3 separate regions of the Homo sapiens genome follow, and all the other regions are reported to be linked to region 2. The links are microRNA targets in miRTarBase. Many come from high-throughput screens and were not tested one by one. Region 2 holds a microRNA gene; each other region holds the end of a gene's coding sequence.
What was found. Region 2 holds the annotated microRNA hsa-let-7a-5p (UGAGGUAGUAGGUUGUAUAGUU, at 4,952-4,973, opposite strand). A microRNA usually pairs through its seed, bases 2 to 8, with sites in the 3' UTR of a target mRNA and lowers its output. Matches are read on the target gene's strand: a 7mer-m8 pairs with bases 2 to 8, a 7mer-A1 pairs with bases 2 to 7 and ends in A, and an 8mer does both.

Region 1 (7,124 bases), not on the chromosome of region 2:
TCGGGAGGCTGAAGTAGGGGAATCACTGGAACCCGAGAGGTGATGGTTGCAGTGAGCCGAGATTGCGCCACTGCACTCCAGTTTGGCAATAGAGCGACACTCTGTCCCAAAAAAAAACTCTGGCCAGGTGTGGTGGCTCACACCTGTCATCCCAGCACTTTGGGAGGTTGATACCATTAGAAAACATGAAGACAGTAAATGAAAAAATGCAGGGCCGGGCGTGGTGGCTCATGCCTGTAATCCCAGCACTTTGGGAGGTTGAGACAGGAGGATCACCTGAGGTCAGGAGTTCGAGACCAGCCTCGCCAGTGGTGAAACCCCGTCTCTACTAAAAATATAAAAATTAGCTGGGTGAGGGCTGGGTGTGGTGGCTTACGCCTGTAATCCCAGCACTTTGGGAGGCTGAGGCGGGCGGATCACGAGGTCAGGAGATCGAGACCGTCCTGGATAACACAGTGAAACCCTGTCTCTACTAAAAATACAAAAAATTAGCTGGGCGTGGTGGCGGGCACCTGCAGTCCCAGCTACTTGGGAGGCTGAGGCAGGAGAATGGTGGGAATCCGGAAGGCGGAGCTTGCAGTGAGCCGAGATTGCGCCACTGCACTCCAGCCTGGGCGACAGAGCAAGACTCCGTTTGGTAGGCTGAGACAGGAGAATCACTTGAACCCTGGAGGTGGAGGTTTTGGTGAGCCGAGATCATGCCACTTCACTCTAGCCTAAGAGGCAAGAGCGAAACTCCATCTCAAAAAAAAGAAAAAAAAAAACCTCTAAGTCAAGTGGGGCTAACTGTAAAGGTATATTTTTTATACCTTTTATCTTTTATATGTTTGAAATATTTTGTAATGTTTTATCAGGAAAAGTGGAAAAGAAATCCAGATGAAAGGTAAAGGTGTTAGAGATGTGGGCAGTAGATTAGCACGCCTCAAAGAAGAGTGCGGGGAAATTGCCAGTCGCCAAATCACTCATTTCTTTTCATTTTCTTGTAGCTTGGAGGGACGGTTTGAAGATGAGGAGCTGCAGCAGATTCTTGATGATATCCAGACAAAGCGCAGCTTTCAGTATTAATCTCCAAACATCACTGCTGCTCGGAGAAACCACATCCCCAGGCATAACACCACCTTCCCACTGTCTGGGGCTGACTTGCACAGAAATTCTGTTGAAGACAGTTGAGAATTCCTTTGGAGAAAACAGCCCAGCTTGGCGTGGGGTTAGGTTGCTGTTTCAAATAACTCACAGGCCCAGGTGACATGGAATCTTGGAGCAGCCTTGTGCAGTGGCAGCCAGTGGCTTCCTGAACGTGCCTCTGCGAAGTGTGAGATGAGGGGTCACATAACCACACTGTTGACTACCTCATTCCTGGTTTTTGGCCTCCACATCATCTTTTTTCTTAATATTTCATGTTTTAATTTCAGGGTGTTTATACTTTTTGAAACTAGACCAGAAGATAGTAGACTTTATAGAGAAAGACCAGTTTTACCTAGATACTAAAGGAAGAATTAAACCGCTGTTAGTTTGAAATGCTTTTTTTTTTTTTTTTTAAATGGAGATAGGGTCTTAACTCTTGTCCAGGCTGGAGGAGTGCAGTCGTACAGTCATGGCTCACTGAAGTCTTGACCCCGCTGCCTCAGCCTCCCAAATAACTGGGGCCACAGGTGTGCACCACAACTCTCAGCTAATTTTTAAAATTTTTTATAGAGGTGGGGTTTTACTATGCTGTCCAGACTGGTCTTAAACTCCTGGGCTCAAGTGATCCCCCTGCCTTGGCCTCCCAAACTGGTGAGATTACAGGCATGAGCCACCACAACTGGCCTGAAATTCTTAAAGGATGGGAGTGTCGATGACAGCACCTTGGCATCGTTGTGCCTAACCTGGGAGACGGAAGAAGCACGCCATGGGAAGTGTTTACACTTGGGGACAAGTGCTAAGTATTGTGGAGCCCATAGCCCCTTGAGATAGATGGCTACTTTGCCTTTCTTCTTGAACTGTCTTGCAGAATGTGGATTTGGGGTAAGTGGTCTTGAAGGATTCATTTAGTCACCCTCAAATTAAGATTTTTACTTCATCTTTCTTGGGCCTGCACCTCCAAGATAACAAAGAAGAAGCAATGGTCGTGCCAAAGAGGTCCACAACCAGGTGTGCACTGTTCACTGCAGCCCATTTGCTGTATGAACTGTGGTTGTTGTGTGCCCAATGACAAGGCTACTAAGAAATTCATCATTTGAAACGTAGAGGCCGCAGCAGTCAGCGATGTTTCTGAAATGAGCATCCTTGACGCCTGTGTACTTCCCAGGCTGGATGTGAAGCTACATTACCATGTGAGTTGTGCCATTCACAGCACAGTGGTGAGGAATTGAGCTCATGAAGCAGGCAAGGACCGAACACCTCCACCCCAACGTAGACCTGCAGGTGCTGCCCCATGACCTCCACCAAAGCCCATATAAGGAGCGGAGTTGTTAAGGACTGAAGAAAAACTTCTCTGGAGAAAAATAAAATTGCAATTCTACTTAAAAAAATTTTTTTTTTTTTTTACTTCATAGGCCAGGCTTGAAGTTCTGAACACTTTGAAGTCTCCAATTATGAGAGATCCAGTCTAAGCCTCTGGCCTGCTAATTAGCAATAAGTGCTTTATTTGGAAGGAGGGAGTCATCCACTCTTGAGCCACTGCAGTGAAGTCACTTGATCTCAGTCTGGGGGAAAACACTTCAATAGCTAAACATTCTAGCTTTGATTTTTCTGAAGGGAATACACTTGTTTTCAATTTTGGGGTTTTTCTTTGGGGCACTTGCTTGACTCTGTATGAACTTGTGATCCAAGGAAAAAGGAGAAAGAACAGTGTTGGCTTTTAAAATCAGGATGGTTTTATGTTTGCTACGAAATAAGGCAAGAATAAAAAATTCTTATTTTTATTTATTTATTTATTTTTTGAGATAGAGTCTGGCTGTGTTGCCCAGGATGCAATGGCGCAATCTTGGCTCACTGCAACCTCTGCCTTCTGGGTTCAAGTGATTCTCCTGCCTCAGCCTCCCAAGTAGCTGGGATTACAGGTACCTGCCACCACGCCTGGCTAATTTTTTGTGTTTTTAGTAGAGACAGGGTTTCACCACGTTCGCCAGGCTAGTCTTGAACTGACCTCAAGTGATCCTCCCACCTCGGCTTCCCAAAGTGCTGGGATTACAGGCGTGAGCCACCGGCCAATCTTTTTATCCTTGAGCAACTTCGCTTCTTTGAGCCTCATTGGTGTTCTCAATTGTGAAATATGGATAATAGTATCTGCCCCATGGGTATTTTGAGAAGGTTGAATGAACAGGAAATTATTACAAAGAGCCTAGAGGTGTCTGATATATAGTATGTTCCAGTAAATGTTCACTATTCTTAGCATCTCAGGCAGATGAGCTAGTATAGATAGATGATTAAGTCAGCTTGCTTCATAGAAATTAGTGCAAGAATTTGTTAGCCTACCAACTGATAGTATCAGACTTGGAAAATAAATGAAATTGGGCCAGGCGTGGTGGCTCACCCTTGTAATCCCAGCGCTTTCAGAGGCCGAGGCAGGCGGATCACCTGAGGTTGGGAGTTTGAGACCATCCTGACCAACATGGAGAAACCCCGTCTCTACTTAAAATACAAAATTAGCGGGGCGTGGTGGCGCATGCCTGTAATCTCAGCTACTCTGGAGGCTGAGGCAGGAGAATTGCTTGAACCTGGGAGGCAGAGGGGGTGGCGAGCCAAGATTGCACCATTGTACTCCAGCCTAGGCAACAAGAGCGAAACTGTCTCAAAAAAAAAAAAAAAAAAAAAGTGAAATTGCTTACCCAAATCTACAGTTAACTTTCGTTTTTTAATGCTTGATGAATTTGCATGTCATTCTTGGGCAGTGGCCATGCTGTCTTCTCTGTATTGTTCCAATTTGGGTATATGTGCTGCCAAAGTGAGTACTGCAGAATTATTTCTTGAGAGAGGCACTTACATGTGCTGATTGGCACTAAAGCAGTGGAATGGGAAGAAGAGACTTGGAAGGCAGCCCAGACGATCCAGGCGTGTGCTAGATGGCAACTGAGGAGCACGGTGCTACCATCTTTACTGGTGTTTCCACCTATGTGCCAGGGGTTCTGTGAGCTACCTGAGAATACTGAAGTATATAATGCTCTGGCACATAGTTAGGCACTAATCAGTGGTATTTATCAAGGTGATTAAAAGCAGATTTAAAAAGCAGCTCACAGTTGGGCGCGGTGGCTCACACCTGTAATCCCAGCACTTTGGGAGGCCGAGGCGGGTGGATCACCAGAGGTCAGAAGTTCGAGACCAGCCTGGCCAACGTTGTGAAACCCTGTCTCTACTAAAAATACAAAAATTGGCCACGTGTGGTGGCGGGCACCTGTAATCCTAGCTACTTGGGAAGCTGAGACAGGAGAATTGCTTGAACCCGGGAGGTGGAGGTTGCAGTGAGCCAAGATCATGCCATTGCACTCCAGCCTGGGCAACAAGAGCGAGACTCCATCTTGAAAAAAAATAAAATAATAAAAAGCAGCTCATACTAGGGAACTTGGTAAAGCAACCTCATGCTGTTGTAGGTTGAAAGCCTGGTCAGCTATTCTGCAAGACAGTCAAAAATTGTTTACAGGGCTGGACAGCATATTGCTATTGAAAAATAGCTATTAGGAGACCTTGCACAATTTGTGAAACATTGTTAGGCTCATTGTACTGTGTAAAATCAGGAAAGAATTTGGGAACATACTGATACAACAAAAAGATAGGTTGTCAAACCCTCACTTCACCAGAAAGCTAAATTAACCAGATAAGTCTTTCTGAAAGTTTTAGTGTCTTAGTTTGTTCCTGCGCTGTAACAGAATACCTTAGACTGGGTAACCTATAAATAATAGGAATTTATTTCTCACAGTTTTGGAGGCTGGCAAATGCAAGATCCAGGTGCTGGTACGTTCAGTGTCTGGCAAGGGCGGCTTTCTGGTCCAAGATGGTGCCTTTTTTTCTGCATCTTCCATAGGGAATGAACACTCCTTATGGTAGAAGGGATGGAAGGACCAGGCTTTTTTTTTTTTTTTTTTTGGATACAGCAGGATCTTGCTCTGTCGCCCAGGCTGGAGTGCAGTGGCATGATTAAGGTTCACTGCAGCCTCAATCTCCCACTCTCCAGCGATCATCCCACCTCAGCCTCTTGGATAGCTGGGACCACAGGCACGAGCTACCATGCCTGGCTAATTTATTTTTTGTAGAGACGGGGTTTCGCCATGTTGCCCAGGCTGGTCTGGAATTTCTGACCTCTAGCAGTCCACCTGTTTCCGCCTCCCAAATGCTGAGATTAGAGGCATGAGTCACTGCACCCAGCCCGCAGCCTCTTTTATAAGGGCATTAATCCCCTTCATGAGGGATATTCTCTCATGACTTAATCACCTGCCAAAGACCCCACCTCTTAATACTACATCAGTGATGGGTTCAATGTATCAATTGGGTGGGAGGGGGCACATTCAGACCATAGCATCTAGTCATTCTGGTTTTATTAAGATTTATTAGACCTGAGGCATGAAAAATAGCATACTGGATGGGACTTCAGCATCGATGAGTTGCCTTAGTAATACTGTTAATAAAAAGCACTAAATATGCCACTGGTGTCAGATAATTTTTTTACAAAAAATTTTATACTTAACAGAAAACCTGGAAAGACTAGTACATTGATACCTGTGTGTTCACCATCTTGATGTAACGGATAACATGCTATTTGCTTTATCTGTATTTCATTGCTAGGAATGGGGCATTATAGCACTTAGGAACATTGACAAGTATTGCATGTTATTGAATATCCAGCTCATATTGAAGTTTTCCTTGGGGAGAGTTCTGGGTCAAGGGTCAGTCCCAGTAGTGGTGTGGCTCAGTTGTCAGGGTCTAACCTAACAATTGCGGTGAGAAATATTGAGGAAATATATGTGGTTACAGCTCTCAAGTTTCTGTAAAGATCTTTGACTAGATAAAAGTACCTGTTTGCAACTCCTGAATGGGAGATGGGACTAGGGAGACTGCAGGTCCTGGGTAGATTCTGATCAGTATTTGTGCCTACACCCGGCTCTCCTCTCTTCATCAGCGGAAGAGCAGTTTGGAACTAAACAAGGAGAATGCACATTCAATGACAGCAGAGTAGGGGCAGATCTGCTAGAGTCCATCAAACATGGAGCAGGTTCAAAGCAGCGGTGTATGCCTCCCTTCCGTTGTGTGGCACTGTGTATTTTTTTTTTTTTTTTTTGAGATGGAGTTTCACTCTTGTTGCCCAGGCTGGAGTGCAATGGCACGATCTCGGCTCACTGCAACCTCCGCCTCCCAGGTTCAAGCGATTCTCCTGCTTCAGCCTCCCGAGAGCTGGGATTACAGGCGTATGCCACCACACCCAGCTAATTTTTTTGTATTTTTAGTAGAGACGGGGTTTCACCATGTTAGCCAGGATGGTCTGTATCTCCTGACCCCATGATCCGCCTGCCTCGGCCTCCCAAAGTGCTGGGATTACAGGCATGAGCCACCGTGCCCGGCCTGCACTGCGTACTTACTAGCAAATGTTTATTGAGCCCCCATTTTGAATAGCGTCGGTGTGGAGCTACAAGGAGAAACAAGAATACCTGAAATTACAGAATTTGAGGAGAGAGCTCCGTGAGATAGGGGTGAGGGGAACAGCCTAGGAGACAACTGGGAATTTTGAAAGATTCGCAAGGCAAAGCTGTCAGACAGCTTCCTTTGAGATGGGCACATCCCATATCTGAACTGTCCAGTGTACTAGCCACTGGCTGCATGGAGCTTCTGCATATGGTAGGCTAATGACTTAGGAACTGGATTTTAAGCTTAAATTTTATTTATTTTTGAGACAGTCTCCCTTTGTCAACCAGGCTGGAGTGCAGTGGCACGATCCCAGCTCACTGCAACCTCCGCCTCCGAGGTTCAAACGATTCTCCTGCCTTAGCCTCCTGAGTAGCTGGGATTACAGGCACCCGCTACCACGCCCAGCTGATTTTTGTATTTTTTTAGTAGAGACAGGGTTTCACCATGTTAGCCAGGCTGGTCTTGAACTCCTCACCTCAGGTGATCTGCCTGCCTTGGCCTCCCAAAGTGCTGGTATTATAGGTGTG
Region 2 (7,124 bases):
TGGGGTTTCATCATGTTGGCCAGGCTGGTCTCGAACTCTTGACCTCAGGGGATCTGCCTGCCTTGGCCTCCCAAAGTGCTGTGATTACAGGCGTGAACCACTAGGCCAGGCAGAAATACTCATTTTGAAATTACCCCAATCCTATCACACCTCATTTCCTTGCTCTTTTCCTACGCATCTTCGCCTAAATCAGTGCACATGAAATTGATGCAATTTTGCCACAACTTAAATCTTCAACTTTAAAGAACTGTACCATGTAAGGTACCTTAGAAAACATACCCAACCATCTCAATTCATAAAGGAAATTTAAAGCCCCAAGTATGAGAACATCCCTAGATCACGATTCTTCCTTCCACTGGAGCAAGGGGCTAGGCAGCAGAGGGGCAGGATGGGAAACTCCACTGAATTTCCTTTCAACTTTCTCACCCCTGGAGACTTTTAAATGTATTACTGCTCATGATCAGGCAAGGGTGGTTCACACCTGTAATCCCAGCACTCTGGAAGGCCACGGCCGGTGGATCACTTGAGGCCAGGAGTTCAAGACCAGCCTGGCCAACATAGTGAAACCCTGTCTCTAATAAAAATACAAAAAATTACCTAAATCCTGTCTACTCTACCCAGGAGGTGGAGGTTGCAGCAGTGAGCTGAGATCACACCACTGCACTCTAGCCTGGGAAACAGTGAGATTTTGTCTCAAAAAATAAAATAAAATAAAAAAAAATACTACTGTTCATAGTAGTTGGAAAAAGATGGAATGCTAATGCACAAATTCGTCTCATTCCTAGAATGATAAATGCTCAAACTAGACTAGTGAAATGAGACATAAGAGTTTTTACAAGGTAGTGTCTGCCTGAGCAAACTCAAATAATTACTCAAGTAAAGAAAGGAGGCTGTCCTGGCCAGCACTTTGGGAGGTAAAAGCCAGAGGATAATCAGGAGTTCAAGACCAGTCTGGGCAATATGGTGAAACCGTCTCTACAAAAATAAAATTAGCCAGGCATGGTTGTATGCACCTGTAGTCCCAGTTACTAGGAAGCTTGAGTCCGGGAGGTCAAGGCTGCAGTGAGCTGTGATCATTTCACTACACTCCAGCATGGGTGACGGAATGAGACCATCTCAAAAACAAAACAAAAAGGAGGGTGATCCTGAGCAGTTAATTGTCTGTACAAAGTCACACAAGTGTTTACAAAAATGGAAGAGCTGGAAATTGCTCGTGTTAGCTTTATTAAAACATCTGTAAATGACCATCCAATCACCAAATTATTGCTAATGAAAAATGAAACTAAGAACAAATCATAATAATTACAAATGAAAAATGCATCTACTACTGCAAGGATGGGGATAAGGGTTAAGGATGACTTAAAAAGCACTAGTTTTGAAGTATGCAGTGTTTTTATTGAAAAGATGTATAACTTTTAACAAAATATGTAACACTATTACCCAGTCAAGACAACCACTTTCATTTTATTGACCTTCCAGTTCTTGTACATATTAAACAGACAAATCACTGTTACATACCATAATGAGCAGCAGCTCAATTACCCATTCCCAAACCATGCAATTCCACCCCAGCCGCCCCAAATTTTAAATCCAGAAGACAAACCTAGAAAAGCAGCAAGATAAATATTTACAAACATTGTAGAAAAACAGCAGTATTTCAAGTTTTGTTAAATTCTTTCCTTCAGACATAATGTAGACATAGAGGAGGAACAGCTGAGAGTCTCTGCATCACAGAAAGAGAAACCTGAGCAAAAACAAAACCATGCTTTCTAAACTTTCCAGTGACACCAAAAGGGAGACACTAGCAACTAAGTGTACTTCAGAAGTCTCAAATTCTCATTAGTTGACTTTCAGTTATCAATGTCAGCACCATGCTGCAGTTTATAATCACTAACGCAAACACTGCTCTCTTTGATATTCTTGCAATGTTTTCATTTGAAAAAACCTACAGAAAGAACTCTGCTTACACCAAAGCAAAGTAGCAAGGAAACAGGTTATCGGTGAATAATAAGGCCCTAAGAAAGGCAGCAGGTCGTATAGTTACCTCCTTGTGGGCAAAATCCCTGCCCTAAAACTATGCAACCTACTACCTCTTCCTAGGAACCCATTTTTTTTTTCTTGCTGGTCTTCTACTTGGCAGATGCACTTCAAATTAACCTGTTAAATTAGGTCATGTTCTTTGAGTTTTGTTTCTAATTCAAACTAATCAGAATTCTTTAACTAATGCTTTTGAAAAGTTATCTGGCCATATGACCTTGGTAAAAAGCCACAAATACATTTGCTTAAAATCCAACCTCAAGTCACAAACGAACAAGAAAGTAATGACATCAGAGGATGTAAGCCAGTAGTCTAATACTCAGCCCACCACGTATTACTGGAGTCGCTGACTTTTAACATTTAATTATCAATTTTTTTTTTGGACAGTCTCGCTCTGTCACCCAGGCTGGAGTACAGTGGTGTGATCTCGGCTCACTGCAACCTCTGCCTCCTGGGTTTAAGTGATTCTCCTGCCTCAGCCCCCAGAGTAGCTGGGATTACAGGCGCCCACCACCACGCCCAGCTACTTTTTTGTATTTTTAGTAGAAACAGGTTTTCACCATTTAGGCAGGCTGGTCTCAAACTCCTGACTCAGGTGATCCGCCCACCTTGGCCTCCCCAAAGTGCTGGGATTACCGGCATGAGCCACCACACCCGGCCTAATTTTTGTATCTTTATTAGAGACTGTGTTTCACCAGGCTGGTCAGGATGGTCTTTAACTCCTGACCTCAGGTGCTCCACCCGCCTCAGCCTCCCGAAGTGCTGGGATTAGAGGTGTGAGCCATGGTGCCCAACCCAGTTACCAACATTTAAATATCAAATTTCATAAAATCTCCAGTCTCTCCTGTTAACTGGAAAAGTAGGTGACAATGTATATAAACCCTGCTTGCTACCTATCAACCAGAGCAAATTAATTTACTATATTTGCCAGTTACAACTAGCCCCTCCTGGGCCTCTGATGGTATTTCAGTTTTTGACCCCTGAATTAAAGCAAACAGAAACAAATTCTGATCATGAATTTTATCATCATTAAAAACAAGCTTTCAGAGATAGTCATTCTCTCCATAAAGGCATTTTTAAAGTTTTATTTCGATTTACTTACTCTGCTTAGCTAATAACAATGTCCTTATGTAATTAATAAAATATATAAATTAATTTTTCTCCAGGGCTTAATTATTAGATAAGGATACGTTTCCAACTGAAGGTGGCAACGTTATGCTGGAAGAACATGTCAGGAAGACCACAAAATTTCATGACTGTACTTGCTACACTTTCAGCAGAAGAGTTATACATATTTTCAATTCAACAAAGATTAAGCCAAAAAGAATTCTTAGAACATTCCCACTCTTCTTTGGCACATCAAAAGGCAACAAATGTCATTTTCTCCCATGTTTTTATGTGCAGTTTAGAACAAAGACCAATTATCTATGCAGCTGTCCACAGTGGATAAAACAAAAAGCATACATTTGGTCCAGAGTTAAGTCACCTGGGTTGGGCCCATCCAAGGAAGTTTGATGTTTCTACTCTCATGAAAAGTACCAATGGCACTGCACAGTGATTATCTTAGATATTAAGGATAAACACAAATTTCTCCTTAAATTTCCATTTATTGGAAATGATTGGAGGGAGGGAACTTCTCCCTCACCTCCACACTGCCTCTTTTCCAACTCTTCTTCCAACACAAAATAGTTTAAACAGCAAGCACTTAGAGAGCTTTTAGCCTTGCTTGTTGATTACAAGGCCCAAGTTAGTGTATGGTTTGCCCATCGGAGGAAAGCTAAAACATGGGCCTTCATGGGTATTAAAATTGAAGAAACCTTTTCCAGCATTTTTTCTATTTTCTTTAAAGTAACAACCTATGGACTTCCCCATCTGACATTTTCGAGTGATCCCACTGTGTGAATGAAGGACTACTTCAGGGTTTGAGGGCAAAGCTGAAATCTTAGCAACTTACCAGTGAGCAAAGGTAGAACCCAGAGCCCATCTCTCCTTTTCCAGGCTGCTGAGTAAAGTCTGGCTCAATCAACCTATCAATGAAGCAGTGCTTACAACATTCTCCAAGACCACCCAAAACCCAAACTGGAAATGAATCATGACTAATCTGACTCATTTTGGCTCACACAGTGCCCTTCCAATTTGTATTTACCTTTACCACCCAGGACCTGACCTTGGACATGTGTACCAGGATGTAAGGCAATAAACCTATTCACAATTCCAAAAGGGCCTGGTCCTCTATGAAGATTTCCTGAAGGCTACTTACTTTCTCTACTCATTAAAATTTTTGCTTAACTTCAAATTTCTGAAATATACCATATGTGAAAAATTTAAATGTTAATCTGTGCCTACTGTACTACTTGAACAGAGAAAATTAACTGATAAACTGTAAATACAAAATGTCAAAATTAATTCTTCTGAGTTTTAATATCATCTAAATAAAAAGAAAATAATGCAGCAAGTCTACTCCTCAGGGAAGGCAATAGATTGTATAGTTATCTCCTGAACAGGGTAAAATCACTACCCCACAACTATACAATCTACTACCTCACTCTGATAGAGCAATGTTTTCTTCTGGAATGGAAAGTACAATCTCTTTCGAAAGAAAATTTCAACATAAAATTATCAGCATAAATCAAAATAAAAAAATACATTTATTCTGACACAGAGAAATAAGACAAGAAGCAAAAGGTTTCCCCACCCCCATCCAGTGTACTTGCTACAGACTTTATCTCTAAATTAATTTATTTCCAGGCCATAAACAAATGCTGCACTACATCTCTTTAAGACAAGTTAATCTTAAATATTGTACAATTAGTTAACTGACTTTCTATCAGACCGCCTGGATGCAGACTTTTCTATCACGTTAGGAAAGACAGTAGATTGTATAGTTATCTCCCAGTGGTGGGTGTGACCCTAAAACTATACAACCTACTACCTCATCCCACAGTGAAGAGAACATCCAGGGTGAATGGTGAAAAGGAATCACAGTTGAGCACCACAGGAAGGCTTTTTTTCCTCCTCGGTAATCCTGGTTTCCTGTGTGAGTGATAAGAAAAATAGTATTAGACCATTTTCATTCACTTACGTTGAAAATGAAGTTTAACTGAACATTTTGGCTACATGCATAATCTATGCTGTGGTTTCATTTCCTGTATTTCATTAATAGTATTTTAAATGCTTGGTTATCTGAATCCGCTCCTAAAACCATGTATTTACAAGATTCAGAAATCACCCTCTTACCACCACCTTTTACTATTATTAACTGCTGGTTTTCTTACAGTTCCTACAAATGAAAATGCATGAAATAACTTATCCTTCAAGAAACAACAAAAAATCATTACAGAAAAACATGACAGCCTCTAATTAAAAATCCAATGACTTCAAAACCCAAAAGTCCTGTACATCATGCATAATCCAAATGCACTAACATACAACGAGATAATATAAAAAACACACACAAATAGAAACTAATTTTTAAAGGAACCTACTCATTTATCCCATGCGAGCAAACACTAAGTGGTCTTATTAGGACTAAATCAAAGATAATCACCTGGATCTGATTCAGGGTCAGGATCCTTTCCTTTAGATAGAAAGGTAATATGTGGATTGAAGGCAGAGTCCAAAATCTTTAATAAACCCAAGTAATCTAAACTGTATTATTACCCTTTAATTTACAGACTTCATATTTAGGAGGTAGCTACTACGAAGATTATCTTTTAAGATAGGGACTAAATTTATTTTGTAGTGATTTAGTAACCAAAAGCACTAATTTTTAAAATTACAAAACGTAATAAAAAACATACGGCTCAATATAATAGAATTTAAAGTCTAGAAATAAACCCATACATGGGTCAACTGATTTTCAACCATGACAAGACAATTCAACTGGGAATCGTTTTTTCAACAAATAATGCTGACGGCTGTATAGCCACATGCAAAAAAAATGGATCTGCATTCTTTGTAAACTGGTGTGCAAAACACACATTAAAGTAACTTAAAACAACCTAATTTAATGGTAAAATATTTTAATAGATATTTCACCAAAGATATGACTCATAAGCACAAATGGCCAACAGGCACATGAAAAGATACATTATTCATTAGGATGGCTAATAAGATTAATAAAAGTGTTGACAAGGATGCGGAGAAAATTGGAACCCTTAGATTGCTGGTGGGAATGTGAAATGGTGCAGCTGCTTTGGAGAACAAAACTTGTAGACAAGTCAAACAGTTGTTAAGTGGAATCAGAAACACGTATTTCGTCTTTGTCTCCATTTGAAGATCCTGGCTGGCATACAGCTCCTAAAACCCTCAGAATTTCCTAAGTGATGAATGTCTGTTTAATGCTACTGAGTCGATTGGTGGCTCCTGTAGTTTCAGGAGGGGGATAGTCACCAGAAAGACCAAGGTGTGATTAGAGGGGTGGAACTTTCAGCCTCACCCCCTCAACCTCCAGGTAAAGCAGAGAGGACAGAGAGTAAGCCAATCATCAAAGGCCAATAATGTAATCAATCATGCCTAAGTATGAAACCTCCATAAAAACCCCTTAAGTGTCAGGGTTTGGACAGCTCTGAGTTGAAAAACACATCTTCATGCCAGGAGGCTGGTGTAACCCTAACTCCATAGATACAGAAGCTCCTGTGCTAGGAACCCTCCTGGACTTCAGCTTAAGGACCTCTTCATCTGGCTATTCATTTAAATCCTTTATAATAAACCAGTGATAATGAGTGTCTTCCTGTGTTCTGTAAGCCATCCTAGCAAATTATAGACCCAGTGGAAGAGGTTGTGAAACCCCCTAATTTATAGCTGGTTGGTTAAAAATTCAGGTAGAAACCTGCATCTGAAGCGGGGGCAGTCTTACGTGTTTGAGCCCTCAACCTGTGAAGTTTGTACTAACTTCAGGTAGTTTCAGAATTAAATTTAATTGTAGGACACTCTGTTGGTGTCGAGTTGAAGAATTGATTGTTGGTGTCAGAACTGGTTAGTGATGAGTAAAAAACAGTTCACCATATGACCCAGCAATTCCATTTCTAGGTATATACTCTAGAGAACTGAACATGGCTGGGTGTGGTGGTGCAGGCTTATGGTCC
Region 3 (7,124 bases), not on the chromosome of region 2:
AGCTTCTGAAGTAATTGCAAAGGAATAGAATCGACTATTTTTATAGTATATTTAATATATTTGTATATAACTATAATAGGAACCCTCTACATGCCTCCCACTTTTCTAATTTACTTCCCCTTTTGCCATAGCACTAGTATAGCCTCATCCGCATGGGTAATGTGCCTATTGTCAGCCTACCAAAAGATAGTGCTGCTGCTTTATGAGACAGGTGAGAAGACCCAACTCTCATGCCTGGGGATCCTTTACGGAAGGAATAGCACACACTTTTAAAACAACATACCACAGTCTAAAAGCATCATTTTGAAATGTAACAAGCACTTTATTGCAATTACTCATTTTGATAAAGTTTATTCTTAGGCGTTAACCATTTCTAAAGGATCCCCAAATCATCACTTACTTAGGTGAAATTATATAAAATGACACATTTCTGAGAAATGTTTAGGTCCAGTGAACCGTAGTTGGTTTATGGGAGTGATTTCAAGATAGCCAAATGAACTTTGATTTTTGTTTTGAATGTGGTGGAGTCAAGAGATTGTAGATGCCTAGTTTGATTTAAACACTATTGTAAACCTATCTTGCCTATTGTGTGGACACCAAAAGAGACCAATGAGCCTGTTTATTTTTCAGAGGTCTAGGAAAATTGCATCCGTGTGAGTAGATGTACAGAACTAATCTAAAAGTGATTGCTAGTAACATTTTAGAATATAATAATTTCAAGAATTATTCTGAGTGTTTTAAATGTGCCCTGAAATGTTGGCATGTCATTTCAGCATTTCCATTTGAATTGCTCTTGTAATATTTTTGCACAAAAAGGACTGAGAAAAAGAATACTTTGGTTAAAGGAAAAAAATAGTATAATTTGGTCTTTAATTTTAATGTCTCCTGTGGAAACACTGGGGATGAATTTTGTTGGCACAGTTATTCAGGATATTTAAAACAGTGTTGAACAGTTCACAAGAAATTAAGCAAACTTGGATTTTAAAAATTAAAATACTTTCTTTCCATGTGACTGTTTTGCATAGTTTTTTCCCCCTATGTCATAACACTACATTCCTTGTTTTTCTTAAATAAAATACTCTGCAGGTTTTGTTGTGAGTGTTTATAACAGTATTTTGTAAGCTGCCTGGGTTTCCTCAGGGAAACATTATTTAGTGGAATAGGATATAGTTTATGGAGAGACAACTAAGTGAAATTCCATCACCACCACCAGCAAACACTGAGGTGCTGCATTAAGTGACAATCAAACTAGTAAGTATTTATGAAAGAATTTAGAAAGGGGTTCAAAGAAGCAATTGCTTTTAAAGCAGTTCTCTGGGGTTCTTGAATAAAAATGGCTAAATGTATTTATTTATATTTTAAAATACCTGTGTGTTCTGTTTTCTCATCAAAGTGATTTCGGTGTCATGTATTTAATGTGTGGTTTGTTTTGTTTTGCACCATATTCTTCTTAGGGAACTGGCTCTGATTTGGGGTGCAGTCACCAACTCTCATGATAATCTTTACGGACAGTCTGAATCTACTTTACTTCAGGACGGCAGTGGAGGGGCCAACTCCAGATGCCCCTGCACTTCCCTCCTCAAGTCATCTAAGAAAGAATTTTAGAAATAACTCCTTTCAAATCTGATTCATACAGTTCCAACCTTTTTCTAGTTTCACTTGCTGCCTTCTTTGTTTTATGGGCACTTTTTGTGTGATTACTTCCCCAACACAGTCAAAGGCCAGTATGACAGAACCAATGGCACATGATGCCTCTATTTTGCCCATTTGGGGAAATGTTAGTAAAAGAAATAGCATCTTTTAATGGCTGTCATTATCATATCCATATTAAAATCCATTTAAAGTTCTTAAATTTGGCGGAATAATGTATACAGGCTGTAAACTTCTACAAAAAATGTTTGCTGTCTTTAATATGGTGTCAAGTTACTTGGTCCTTTGAAAACAAAACAAAACTTCCATACACAGCACTGCCCAGTAAAGCAGTGTTGGAATATTGGAAACCTAGACATTTGAGGATCCTTCTTGCTCACAAGCATTGGAACAGAATCCTCCACTTTAGGACTCAGAGAAGCTATGGAGTCCCACAGGCTAGGTATAGCACACAACTTAGAGAACGGTAGTTAAAGCACGTCAACCACAATTGAATTTAATGATCTAAAAAATATTTCTTAACTCTGAGGGTTAAACTGAAGATACGTTTTCAAATAAAAGCTTTTAAATTTCTTAGGAAACAAACTGTGACATCGCTTTTAAAAATGACATTCAAATGTTTATAATGTGTGTTTTTGAGTTGGCTTGGACTAGTGCAAGTTCACTGCTGGCAATGGTTATGCCAGTAGTTAAGTTAAAATAAGTTGTTACCTTCAGATTGATGTCTTGTATAACCAGACAATCATCTTCAAGCAAAAAAATTGGCCAGGAAATGTCTTTTTAAAAAAAAAAAAAAAAAAAAAGATGTGTCAGCCAGAACAGTTACCATTCAGACCATACTGGAATGATTTTGAAATCTTTACTATGGTTTAAGTTGGGGAAGGCCTCAGTATGGCATTTTCATATTCACTCTATGTAAAGATTGAAGCCCAAAGATGAGTTAAATTCAGTGCTGTATTGAAACCAGTCAGTGCAAAAAAAAAAAAAAAGTTTTACCTTTGTAAATTTTTCATTGTTAACATCAGTTGGTAGTTGTTAAAACATGCACCAAATTCTTTATAATGTTCTGTGTGGTTCTCAATGTGATATTCTTGACATTGCTGTCCTTACTGCTTGGTTCTTGGTTTTAAATTAAAAAGTAGATGTAGCTCATCATTTTTACTTCCAAAACGGTGGAGCTAAAAACGGCTAATTGATCTTGAGATAAGAATACCCTTTACTAAGGCAAAGATTTAATTGAAATCCAAAATGATTTATAGAAACGAAAGGCATTTTCCATTTGTTGTCTTCTGCCGAAATTCTGAATTGCATACACACATGAAGGATAATGAATGGTTTCAACGGTGCTATATTAGGTTCTCTGATTTTCATGACCTATGTATGTTTGGAAATACAATATTGTATAAAATGTGGATCGTTTTGTTACCGATTTAATATTGCCATTTTAATTTGGTGTAACAATTGGTTACACTTGTTTTTCAAAGCTATCCTTTGAGGAGAAAGTCAAAATGTGTTGTTAGCCTACCTCCACTCAGGCCTCTTGCTGTGTAATCATTATTCCAGGTTATGATGTGCATAGCTTTTAAAACTGCGTGTACTATTATTCTGCTCTTTCCCATACTCTTGTCATGTATTCAGAACCTAAACTTATAGCAAAAGAGCCAAGCAGTAGCAGTTTTTGTAAATGTAAAAATAATTAGATCCAGACTTTGTTTCCTTCAATTTTAAAAATAAAAAATACCTCAGTGCTATGTTTTTCAGTTATCACCTGCATTTCTCAAAAAATAACACCTGCTTCATGTGGCACATAACTTGTAAGAATCACATTTTGGATTTTAAAGAAAGACTATTAAATATTTTAAGATCACTATCAATGACATTTCCCTTTCTTTTATTCAACAATGGAGCCTATTGCAGTAGCGATTTTTACCTTATAGCTTAGGTCTGACTTACCAAAAATTCTCAGAGGAATTATGTCCTGCTACAAGATTGTGGTGCCTCAGAATGCGATGCTGTTCTTATTCGCATATGAAGCTAGTAATGGGACCAAGCTACCTGAACTGAGGTTACACGATGATGGTGCCAGCTACTCCCTACGAGGAATTGTCTTTTCTGTTGTTATTAGAAAAAACGGTTGGGTGCGGTGGCTCACGCCTGTAATCCTAGCACTTTGGGAGGCTGAGGTGGGTGGATCACCTAAGGTCATGAGTTCAAGACCAGCCTGGCCAACATGGTAAAACCCTGTCTCTACTGAAAATACAAAAAAATTAGCCAGGCGTGGTGGCGGGCACCTATAATCCCTGCAACTTGGGAGGCTGAGGCAGGAGAACTGCTTGAACTCAGGAGGCAGAGGTTGCAGTGAGCCGAGATTGCGCCACTGCATTCCAGCCCAGGTGACAGAGTGAGATAGATTGTCTCCAAACAAACAAAACGTATTAGTAGGCCAAGCATGGTGGCTCACGCCTGTAATCCCAGCGCTTTGGGAGGCTGAGGTGGGCGGATCATAAGGTCAGGAGTTCGAGACCAGCCTGGCCAGCATGGCGAAACTCCATCATCTCTACTAAAAATACAAAAAATTAGCCAGGCGTGGTAGTGCACGCCTGTAATCCCAGCTACTCGGGAGGCTGAGGCAGGAGAACTGCTTGAACCCGGGCGGTGGAGGTTGCAGTGAGCCAAGATCACACCACTGCACTCCAGCCTGGGCGACAGAGTGAGACTCTCTCAAAAAAAAAAAAAAAAATACTAGTGAGAATTCCTCACTCTTTCTTTATAACAAACAAACAATCTAAGGCAATATAGACTGTCTAACCACAGAGTTTATCTTAATCCACAGACATTGTTTTCTACCCTTTGATACTTCCTATAGCAGAAAACTACAAATATGACCTTTTTTACCAACATGTGCTACTTCTAACTTGGCATTTAAGCTGAAAACTCCTCTTAAGATCTCCACAGTAGTAGCTATCATCTTCCTCACAGAGTTACCATGTAGGACAATTGCTGCATCCTACAGTGCTGGATGATTAACTGGGTTCTTTCACAATCTCTTCAAATTGCAGACTACATTGTGGACCTTTGTAGTAGCTCATAAACCTGAATTGCTCTGGGTCTCCTATTATACCTCACACAAATAACATGGATGTTTCTGTAGAATTGTCCTTCAATTTAGTGAGGCTATTAATGGGAATGTTACTGCATATGATTCTAGAATATAAAAGGCTGAGAGAAAGCAGCTGTTATGCTACTTGGGTGAAGTAGTAGTCAAATCAAAATATACTCAAACGAGGGTGACGACTGAAGTTGCCATGAAAAAATGAGGTAGTCTTAGCATAATGAATGACATTAGGCTCTGGAATTAAACCGCCTGGTGTGACTCTACCATGTAACCTTGGGTGAGTTAGTTTTTTTCTTTTTTAACCTTATATTAGTACCTACTACCTCACAGAACTGTAAGGGTGACAATGCTTTCGAACAATGCCTGGCTCCTGTTTAGCTACTTTAGGCATATCTCAAATATTTAATATGTTAGTGTTTTTACATCAGCTTTAGAAATTGGCCTATCAATACTGATAATTTTATATGACACACAAGGAAAAACAAGCACTGGTCATACCACTTTTATTTATATTGTTATCTATGTTACATTGTTTATTCAATATAGAAAAAATATGAATACATTCATAGTATTCTCTTTTAATTTGGTAATTCCACATTGTCAAATATTGACTGTTTTTATATTGGGTGTCCTACCCAATTAAAAAAAAAAGAGGAAGAATGACCTGGCAGACAGTTCTTGTTGTGCCATGTTATTGATATAACAGCAATATCATATATGTCTCTTTTTTTAAACACCTAGTTTTGAAAAGACCAATGATTAAACTACTGTTTACTGGCTCAGGGAAATGTTTTAAGAAATAGAAATTAATTCATTCTTTCCCCAAGAAAAACTTTAAGGTAAACATCTTAAAACACCTAAGTGATGAAGGAGAAAATTTGTATTCCTTAAAAAGGGGTCAGTGCTGAAAGAAAATTGCATGGTAGACCCCACTGCACAACGGTTCTGCACCAAAAGAAAAATGAGGACCATATTAACATAATTATGTTGGAGAGAAGAAAAACCCACACTTAGAAGTCAGGTTTCTTTTAAAACTCCTTGTTACAAATAGAATCAATGATTATATCTCAGACATAATAATGGGTCAAACTCACAAAATCAGTGCTACAAAATACAGTATTTTTCCATCACTTTTAGTTGTAATGTACACTATGTACAGAAAGATAATACTACCTATTTTAAACTAAATATAGATGAACAAACAGCTTGTTAAAAACCAGAATCAGGGCTTATAAATAGTGCAGAAAATGCAAACGCCAAAAAAACGATGCCTCCTATGATTGTCACTGGAAGAGAGAGAAAAAAAGTCAAATACAGTAAAATTCCTATACCTTGATACTGTACAAAATGAAAAGGGAGCCGATGAGGCGGCCAATTATTCTTCCAATCTATTAAACTAACCTTGAAAACAAATTAGAATCACTTCAACCCCTTTTACATAACAAGGAACAATACTTAACATGCTTGACTGTGAACACTAAGAATCAGGTTTTCTCCAGCACTGTTTTGAGAAATGACAGGATTGTATTAAATCCAGACAGTGCTGGCAAGCAACAGTAGAACTATAACTCATCTTAAAATCCAGTTATAAAAGAAAATGTTCAGGTCTTCTGACTAGCAAAGAGACGATTCTTCCATCTCTAGACCTAACTGTGGCTTCACAGGACATATTCAGCAGAATCAGTACATATGGTCTCCACATGATTCCAGTCTTGTAAGACACATTTTTAGAGCCAAAAACTTCTCATACTTCCAAATGACAATTGTTTTACTAAGATAATATGTTAACAAGAAGCTACTATGAATTCGATAAAAATGACTTTGTATTTTGCTAACTTCTACACAGGTGAAAAAAGTCCGTATTTGCAATACCAGGATTAATACCTCTATAAGAGATGGTAGGTAATTAGAAAAACCAAGTATACTTCAGCAGCAGAAATTTAAATAATCAAAGCTAACACCCTTTAATCTCTCAGTGATTCTAAAATGTTATCTGATTTGTAATTTTCAAGACTTACCAGTTCTGACAGAGATTTTCTGTGCTATCATTCTTCCTCCAATTACTGCCAATCCCGTGCACAGGCAGTGCCCCACAGTTCCACCCACGGCTACACCATAGGGGTCCTGGAAGCAAGCGTCACAGCATTAATTCAAAACCAAGGTGACAACTGCTGCTTGAGAACCATAACAATTCAGAAGCACTAAAAATGGTGGCCAACAATTAAAAAGCATAATAGTTATAAAAATGCAGGTGTATAATAAATTTATGAGAGGTGTAATGGCTGCTTGAAGGAATATGTACCAGTTATACTTAAGACTAGACCTAAAAGTTGAAATAACCCAAATCAATTTGTAAAGT

Region 1: the mRNA of POLR2D is a reported target of hsa-let-7a-5p. Seed matches in the 3' UTR shown: 8mer at 1,346-1,353.
Region 3: the mRNA of TMEM165 is a reported target of hsa-let-7a-5p. The part of its 3' UTR that is shown has no 7-base or 8-base seed match.

What each region holds. Positions count from the first base shown.
Region 1 is chr2:127,842,048-127,849,171 of GRCh38, reverse strand. POLR2D (RNA polymerase II subunit D) reads left to right here. Exons shown (of 4, transcript NM_004805.4): 4 at 987-5,619. The coding sequence ends at 1,065. It also overlaps the pseudogene RNU6-395P and the pseudogene RPS26P19. Among named protein-coding and RNA genes, the nearest start is that of POLR2D, 13 kb to the left of the region's middle.
Region 2 is chr9:94,173,811-94,180,934 of GRCh38, reverse strand. MIRLET7A1 (microRNA let-7a-1) reads right to left here and starts at 4,978; the gene lies at 4,899-4,978. MIRLET7A1HG (miRlet-7a-1/let-7f-1/let-7d cluster host gene) reads right to left here. Exons shown (of 5, transcript NR_170278.1): 2 at 4,970-5,070; 3 at 1,014-1,115. MIRLET7F1 (microRNA let-7f-1) reads right to left here and starts at 4,588; the gene lies at 4,502-4,588. It overlaps LINC02603 (long intergenic non-protein coding RNA 2603), which reads left to right. Exons shown (of 3, transcript NR_160773.1): 3 at 3,204-4,366. It also overlaps MIRLET7D. RefSeq lists an enhancer at 1,641-1,690.
Region 3 is chr4:55,424,303-55,431,426 of GRCh38, reverse strand. TMEM165 (transmembrane protein 165) reads right to left here. Exons shown (of 6, transcript NM_018475.5): 5 at 6,784-6,889; 6 at 5,252-6,051. The coding sequence ends at 5,975. CLOCK (clock circadian regulator) reads left to right here. Exons shown (of 23, transcript NM_004898.4): 23 at 1-3,524. Among named protein-coding and RNA genes, the nearest start is that of TMEM165, 32 kb to the right of the region's middle.